2 linked regions of the Homo sapiens genome follow. The protein of the gene in region 1 interacts with the protein of each later gene in a pairwise test. Each region holds a gene or a part of one and is shown in the gene's direction. Other genes may lie near its edges.

The links.
Region 2: the proteins of MS4A12 (region 1) and FAM3A interact in a two-hybrid assay, tested with the Homo sapiens proteins (one large-scale study listed by BioGRID).

The regions. Positions count from the first base shown.
Region 1 is NC_000011.10:60,495,485-60,499,302, forward strand, and holds part of MS4A12 (membrane-spanning 4-domains subfamily A member 12), read left to right. Parts: intron 1-1,828; 5' UTR 1,829-1,834; coding exon 1,835-2,110; intron 2,111-3,818. UniProt on the Homo sapiens protein: May be involved in signal transduction as a component of a multimeric receptor complex.
Region 2 is NC_000023.11:154,509,534-154,513,351, reverse strand, and holds part of FAM3A (protein FAM3A isoform 1 precursor), read left to right. Parts: intron 1-415; coding exon 416-529; intron 530-940; coding exon of another isoform or gene 941-1,038; intron 1,039-1,480; coding exon 1,481-1,504; intron 1,505-3,818. UniProt on the Homo sapiens protein: May act as a defensin against invading fungal microorganisms.

The DNA.
Region 1 (3,818 bases):
ATAATGTATCTCATGCACTTAACATAGAAATAATAATAGAGCCAACCCTGTAATCGGCACAATTCCACATACTTTGCAGAGAATAACTCTTTAATACTCAAACTGACTCTCTAAGGAAGGTAGTCTTATTAGCTCTATTTTACAGACAGAAAACAAAGGCAAAGAGAGGTTAACAAACTTGCCAAAGACACAAAGTTGGAGTTAGATCCCAAGTTCATGTTCCTAAACATGACACTATACAGACCCTACTGTGCCTATAATAAGTCTTTAATAAATGTTAGCTCTCTATACACCTCACCTAAAGCTTGCTAAAGAGAATCCTTACTAACTCACTCAATCACAAAGAAGTTAATCCGGTTTATAAACTCCTCTCCATGGCATCAGAAGACAGAAGTTTTGTTGTTGGGTAGTTGCAGGAGCAGAGTCAATACCCTGTCACCAAGGCTGGCCTGGAAAACAAGCTGCAAATGTCCAGAGTGATGCTGCATGGAGGGGGATTCTGAACCAACAGCCAAGAATCCCATTTTCAAGTCCTAACTCTGCCACATGTTTTCTGTGTAACCTTGAGCATGTCACTTAACGACTCAGCTTCAATTTCTCATCTGTAAATCAAGGGGAATGAGACAGGATAAATGGAAAGGGTCTTTTCTACCCTAAAATTTCTGGATTCTATGAGCACAGGGTCTGCATATGTGTCCTTGTTAGATACCAGTGATACATTGTACCAATAGGTTATTCATAGTATTCATACTTCATACCAAGAATGAGACATTCATCACTCTAACTTTCTTGATATTCATAAGCACAAGAAAATTGTTGTGCTTTTGAAGACCTCAAAAAAAGGAATCTAAGGCTAAAGACAAATTTTTTAAGTGTCATAATTTTTTTCAAGAATTAATAGTCATTGTTGTCCATATTCAGTTGTACTGGCTTATTTCCAACAAAATTTCCCTTGCCTACATGGGGCCTGAGATGCTCTAAGCTTTCAGAAGGACAGAAATGAATAAAAGCATTTTTCCTAAAGAACAGAAGAATCATCTTAAGTGGGCATATGTGAACTATCTAGTTTCCCAATTACTGGCAAACAATTTTAATCTTGGACTGCCCTCCTTGCCATACAAGTATTGTATTACTTGGCCCCTGTATTAGTTTTCTATTTGTTGATATAACAAACTACCACAAATGTAGTGGCTTAAAACAATATAATTTTTTTATCTGACAGTTCTGTAGGTCAGAATTCCAATACCAGCTCACTAGACTAAGTTCAAGGTGTCAGCAGAGTCATGTTCCTTCCTGGAGACTCTAGGGAAGAATCTGTTTCCTTGTTTCATCCAGCTTCTAGAGGCGACCCATACACCTTGGTTCATGGACGCCTTCCTCCAACTTCACAGTTGGCAGCATAGCATCTCTCTAATGAGGGATGGTTTCAGGATGAAACTATTCCACCTCAGGTCATCAGGAATTAGAGTCTCATAAGGAGCATGCAACCTAGATCCCCAACATGTGCAGTTCACAGTAGGGTTCATGCTGCTATGAGAATCCAATGCCATGCTGGTCTGATAGGAGGCAGAGCTCAGGCAGTAATGCTTGCCTGCTGCTTACCTCATGTAGTGCAGCCAGGTTTCCAACAGACCACAGACAGGTACCAGTCCTTGGCGTGGGGGTTGGGGACTTATGAGAATCATGTTTCTATCAGTTGTTATGGCCCATTATCTGCTCACTTGTTCTCTCCATTTGCATAGATAATTGACATTTGACATTTGGTAAGATTTTCTTTAGTTTCTTTTCTGGATAAACGTATCACTTTTGTATGTTTTGTGATACTTAGGACATAATGATGTCATCCAAGCCAACAAGCCATGCTGAAGTAAATGAAACCATACCCAACCCTTACCCACCAAGCAGCTTTATGGCTCCTGGATTTCAACAGCCTCTGGGTTCAATCAACTTAGAAAACCAAGCTCAGGGTGCTCAGCGTGCTCAGCCCTACGGCATCACATCTCCGGGAATCTTTGCTAGCAGTCAACCGGGTCAAGGAAATATACAAATGATAAATCCAAGTGTGGGAACAGCAGTAATGAACTTTAAAGAAGAAGCAAAGGCACTAGGGGTAAGTCTATTTACTACCAGAATTTTAATTTCACATTTGCAAGGTCTTCTTATAAGTTATAGGAGAGTATCATCCAATTGCTAAAAAGTTCTGAACGTTATTCTGAAATTATCTCTTTTAGACAGAAATATTTAGTCTGCCTATAGACTTTCCCTTGAGTTCATTTCATTTTAGATCAAGCAAAAATATAACAAGACACAGAGGAGCCTCCCTAGCTGGAGAATTTGGTAATATTGACGTGACAGAAGCACTGTTACATCTAGCTTGATCTCATTTCTTCAAAGGACTTTTTGGACAATCTCAATCCCATCTCTGGATTAGTTACAAGTCTGGTTTTTGCATAAAGGTGAATTTACATAACAATGAACAATGATGGCTGCCCCCAGAAAAGGAAACTACAAATGGGCAGTCTGGGAAAGGCTGAGTGTGAAAGAATTGGGGGACATTCCATCTGCTATGCCTCTTTCACCAATACCCTTAGAGATGCTACAGTTTAACTGTCACCTTACTTCTACAAAGGAGACTCTGAACTGACTGCCTTGTTTCTGTAGGCATTGTAAAAACAAAAATGCCCTACTTGTAAGAAAATTCCACCTGCCTAGGTAGAATTGTTAGTCCCTTCTCCGTGCTTTCCAAATACATCATTCATCCCGCTAGCACAATTCCACCAAATTATATTAAGTCTCTCCCTGTGAATAGCTCAAAATGCTCTGCTGGAGCATTCCGTAAATGAATGCTCATTATGTGCCAGAAACTCTTCTAGCCATCTTACTATGTATTTCAAGTTGTGATGTTTTAGGGAAGTAAAAATGAGCATAAGTTCTCCTGCAGCAGCCTATTTACTAAGCTGTGGAGGTGGCCCTTCTGATCCTCCTCCTCCCAGATAGAGGAAATTCCCTGCTCCTAATAAGCCAATGGGACAAACTAACACCCCATACAGCCAGCCCCACACAGGTGCTTGGAATATCATTAAGCACAAAGGAGGTGCAATCTCTGCCCTCACAGAACTTACGCCCTAGAGGGGGAAATCAGACTGTATACATAATAAGGAAGTAAAGTACTTAGTGTGTTAGAAGGTGTCGAATGATATAGACAAAACAAAGAAGTGTAAAAGGGCTAAAAAGTACTAGGCAGTGAGGAGGCAGCAATTTCAAGGTGGTCAGAATGGGCTTTCCTTAGAACATGACATTTGAGCAAAAACCTGAAGTTAGGAGTGAGCCCTGCAGATATTAGGGAAAGAGAAAACAACCAGTGTAAAAGTCTTTAGATGAAAATGTCTTTGAGGTATTTGAAGAACCGGGAGGAGGCCAATAAAATAGAACAGAATGAGTGAGGGAGGGGGCAGTTGTCAGGAGGGCAGATGAGTGGCAGAGGCCACAGGTGGTGAGGCCTGCAGAGCAGAAGGCTTTGGCTTTGACTGGGTGGATGAGGAACCACTGAAGCATGCTGCCCGGCACCGAAGAGGCGTGTGATAAAAATACTTTAAAAGAATGTGAAGTTTTGTTTTCAAAATCTCCAGTTGGCAGAAGCTACTTCCTCTCTCTGAAGATTTGTTATTTCTATGCCATCAGCAGGCCCTGGGCATCATGACAGTGCAGGGGCCACAGGTGGCAGGACTTGGCACACCTGTACCAGTCAACTCAGACCTTAAAGTGCTTCTGTGGCCAAAAATGCAGACAAATTGTATGTCCAAATTTTTAAGTCTGTC
Region 2 (3,818 bases), on another chromosome or scaffold:
CCGGGACTGGTCTTAAAAGGGAGTAGGGACCCTTCTCCCTCAGAACAGGAGGAAAGCAGGGGCAGGTGGATGCCCAAATATATTGGTGGTTTCAGAGGCAGGAAGTTGAGGGGGTTCTTGGAAAGAGGGCTGGAGCCCTTCTCGAGCAGAGAGTTCTGGAAGGCCCCCTCCCAGACCCGCCAGGGAAAACCAAACCCAGCAGCCTTGGGATTTGAACTCAATTTCCTCCTTCCACCTGCCAGGGAGCTCAAGTCTCCCTTTCAGCCCTGGTAGAAGGCAACAGGTCTCCACCTCCTTGTCCTCCAGCCACTTCTTCCCAAGTGGCAGGGGAGATCCAGTCATGCAAGGCTATGGGGTCATTCTGGGGTTCGCTGGTATCTGAGGTGACCCCACCCTGTGTCTATCCTGCCTCCAGGCCCTCTCCGCATTGTGGTCCTAGTCGTCAGTGTGGGTGTCACATGGATCGTGGTCAGCATCCTCCTGGGTGGGCCTGGCAGTGGCTTTCCTCGCATCCAGCAACTCTTCACCAGTGAGTGTGGGACCCCGCCTTATCCTTCTCTGGAGGCCACCAAGGTGGCCACCTGGGCCTGTGGTTGAGGCTCTGGGTTGGGAGTTGACTTGGGTTTTCTATCTCCTCCCTGGCAGGCTACCTTTGGCTGTCCCCAGTCTGTCTCCTGGCATCAGGCGCAGCCTCCCCCAACACCCAGTTGCTTCATCTAGGAAAGCCAATACCTGATCACTAGAATTATATGCCCAACTGGAGTCAGTAGGGCCAGAGTAAGGGGTAGGGAGCTTCCACTGAACATGGGGAGTGATGCCCCGGTTGCTCCCTGCAGGCTCTGAGATGGAGAGGGGACTCTCCACCTTGTTGACTGGTAATAGGTCACCTGAGTACTTTTTTGTTTGTTTGTTTGAGACAGTGTCTCACTTTGTCTCCCAGGCTGGAGTGCAGTGGTGCAATCTCGGTTCACTGCAACCTCTACCTCCTGGGTTCAAGCGATTCTAGTGCCCCAGCCTCCCGAGTAGCTGAGACTACAGGTGCGCACCACCAAACCCGGCTTCTTCTTCTTCTTCTTCTTCTTCTTATTATTATTATTATTATTATTATTATTATTATTATTATTGTATTTTTAGTAGAGATGGGGTTTCACCATGTTGCCCAGGCTGGTCTCAAACTCCTGGGCTCAAGCAATCTACCCGCCTCAGCCTCCCAAAGTGCTACAGGCATGAGCCACTATGCCCGGCCAGGTCATCTAAGTAGTTTTTCTAATTCCATTTCCCCCTGTTCCTAGAGTAGGGAGTTTTTCATCTGAACATGACTTACACTTGAGCAGGAAGCATGCCAAGGTCGGCCTGGCTTAGCCCCCGGCCCCTGAGCCTGACTGCCTGTGTCTACACTTCGCGGTGTAAGGAGGGCCAGGCTGCCCTGCCGCAGGCCCCGGGAGGCTCCACACTAACAGAAACCACTCTGTATCCACAGGTCCAGAGAGCTCGGTGACTGCAGGTAAGGCCCCTGTCACCTCCCTGCTCCTCCCCTTTGTGACATCCCTGCCTGCCCCCGGTCCCGTAGGGCTTCGGTTTTCCATTTATTCCTCCCCAAACCAGCTGTGGTGGTCCACGGGGGCTGCTTGCCACTGTCAACCTACAAAACAAGTTACTTCCTGCCAAGTTACTTCCTGCCAGAATATGACGGTGGGGCAGGCCTAGGATAGATACTCCCACTGCAAAAGGGCAACTTGGAAGGAAAAAAGAGGTCACCCGTCCCAAGCAAGTCCAAAGCCCAGCAGGGCAAAATTCATTTGGTTTCAAGGCCTGAGGGGAATCCTCTGTGGCCTGAGATTCTTTCTTCTGGGCCTGCTGGAATGACCCATGCTCTGAAACGAGACAGCCCCACCTTCGGGGCCACCCTTCCTTCCCTTTATCTCATCTCTGCCCCCTTCACTCCAGGCCGGCAGTGTTTCTGCTGGTGTCAGATTCTCAAGAGCCTTGTTGGTCTCTTTTGCAAGTTATAGAGGCCCAAGCTATAAAATCAGAGAGTTTTCCCACAGACGCTTCCTAGATAACCCCATCTTCATTGTAGATTTCTGCTGAAAGGGTTGAGTGGACCCACGAGTCACATACCTCAGCTCTGGGGCAAACGCTTGAACAGCCTTGCTGTTCTGTCCAGGGGACACTTTTGCAGTTTTTGTAATATGATTAGGCCAAGAATTTTCCACATCTTCGCTTTCTGGCTCCTTTGTGCTCAACAGTTTCTTCCTTATGTCTCTCACATTTTACTATAAGCAGCAAGGAGAAGTCAGGCTACGCTCTCAACACTGCTTGGAAATCTCCTCAGCTGAATATCCAAGTTCAGCACCCAGCACTTACACATTCTCCTTTCGACAAAACACTAGAACACAATTCAACCAAGTTTTTTTTTTTTTTTGAGACGGAGTCTTGCTCTGTCACCCAGGCTGGAGTGCAGTGGAGCCATCTTGGCTCACTGCAACCTCCGCCTCCCGGGTTCAAGCGATTCTCCCACCTCAGCCTCCTGATTAGCTGGGATTACAGGCACCTGCCACCATACCCAACTAATTTTCATATTTAGTAGAGATGGGGTTTCACCGTGTTGGTCAGGCTGGTCTCGAATTCCTGACCTCAAGTGATCCTCCCGCCTTGGCCCCGCAAAGTGCTGGGATTATAGGCGTGAGCCACCACACCTGGGCCAAGTTCCTTTATAACAAGGATCAGCTTTCCTCCAGCGCCCAATAACTCAATAACATGTCCCTCATTTTCCTCTGAGGCTTAACCAAAAGCACCTTTTTTTTTTTTTTTTTTTTTTGGTAGAGACAGAGGTCTTACTCTGTTGCTCAGGCTGGAGTTCAGTGGTATCATCCCCGTGCACTGTAAGCTCAAACTCCTGGGCTCAAGCGATCCTCTCACCTCAGTCTCCCAAGTAGCTGCGACTACAGGCATGTGCCACCACACCCAGCTAATGTTTTATTTTTTATTATTTATTTTTTGAATGTATTGAGACAGGGTCTTGCTCTCTCACCCAGGCTGGAGGGCAGTGGCGCAATCATAGCTCAAGTGATTCTCCTGCCTCAGCCTCCTGAGTAGCTGGGATTACAGGCATGTACCACCACACCCAGCTTATTTTGTATTTTTTGTAGAGACGGGGTCTCACTATGTTGCCCAGGCTGGTCTTGATCACCTGGCCTCAAGTGATGCTCCTGCCTTGGCCTCCCAAGGTGCTGGGATCACATGCGTGAATCACCACACCCAACCCAAAAGCACCTTTAACATTCATGTTTCTAGCAACGTTCTGTTCTTGATGATATTTGTATTCTCTAAGACCACAGAGGCTGTCTCTATTGCTCTCCCCTCCTCTCACCAGAATTACCTTTAACATCCATACTCCTACCAACAGTCTCTTAAAGGCAATCCAGACCTTTTCTAACATGTACCTCAAACTTCTATAGCCTTGATATGGTTTAAATGTCATCTCTAAAACTCATGTTGAAATTTGTCAATGTATTGGTATTGAGAGGAGGGCCTTTTTGAGGTAGTTACGTCATGAGGGCTCTGCCCTCATGAATGGATGAATGCCACTATTATGGGTGAGTTAGTTACCTTGAAGTTCAGCCCCCTTTTTTCCTGCGTCTCATATGCTTGCTTCCACCTTCCACCTTTCTGCCACGGGATGACCCTCACCAGATGCCGGCGCCATGCTTTTGGACTTCCCAGCCTCCAGAACCATGAGCCAAATGAATCTGTTGTCTTTATAAATTACCCAGTCTGTGGTATTCTGTTATGGCAGCAGCAAATGGACTAAGACA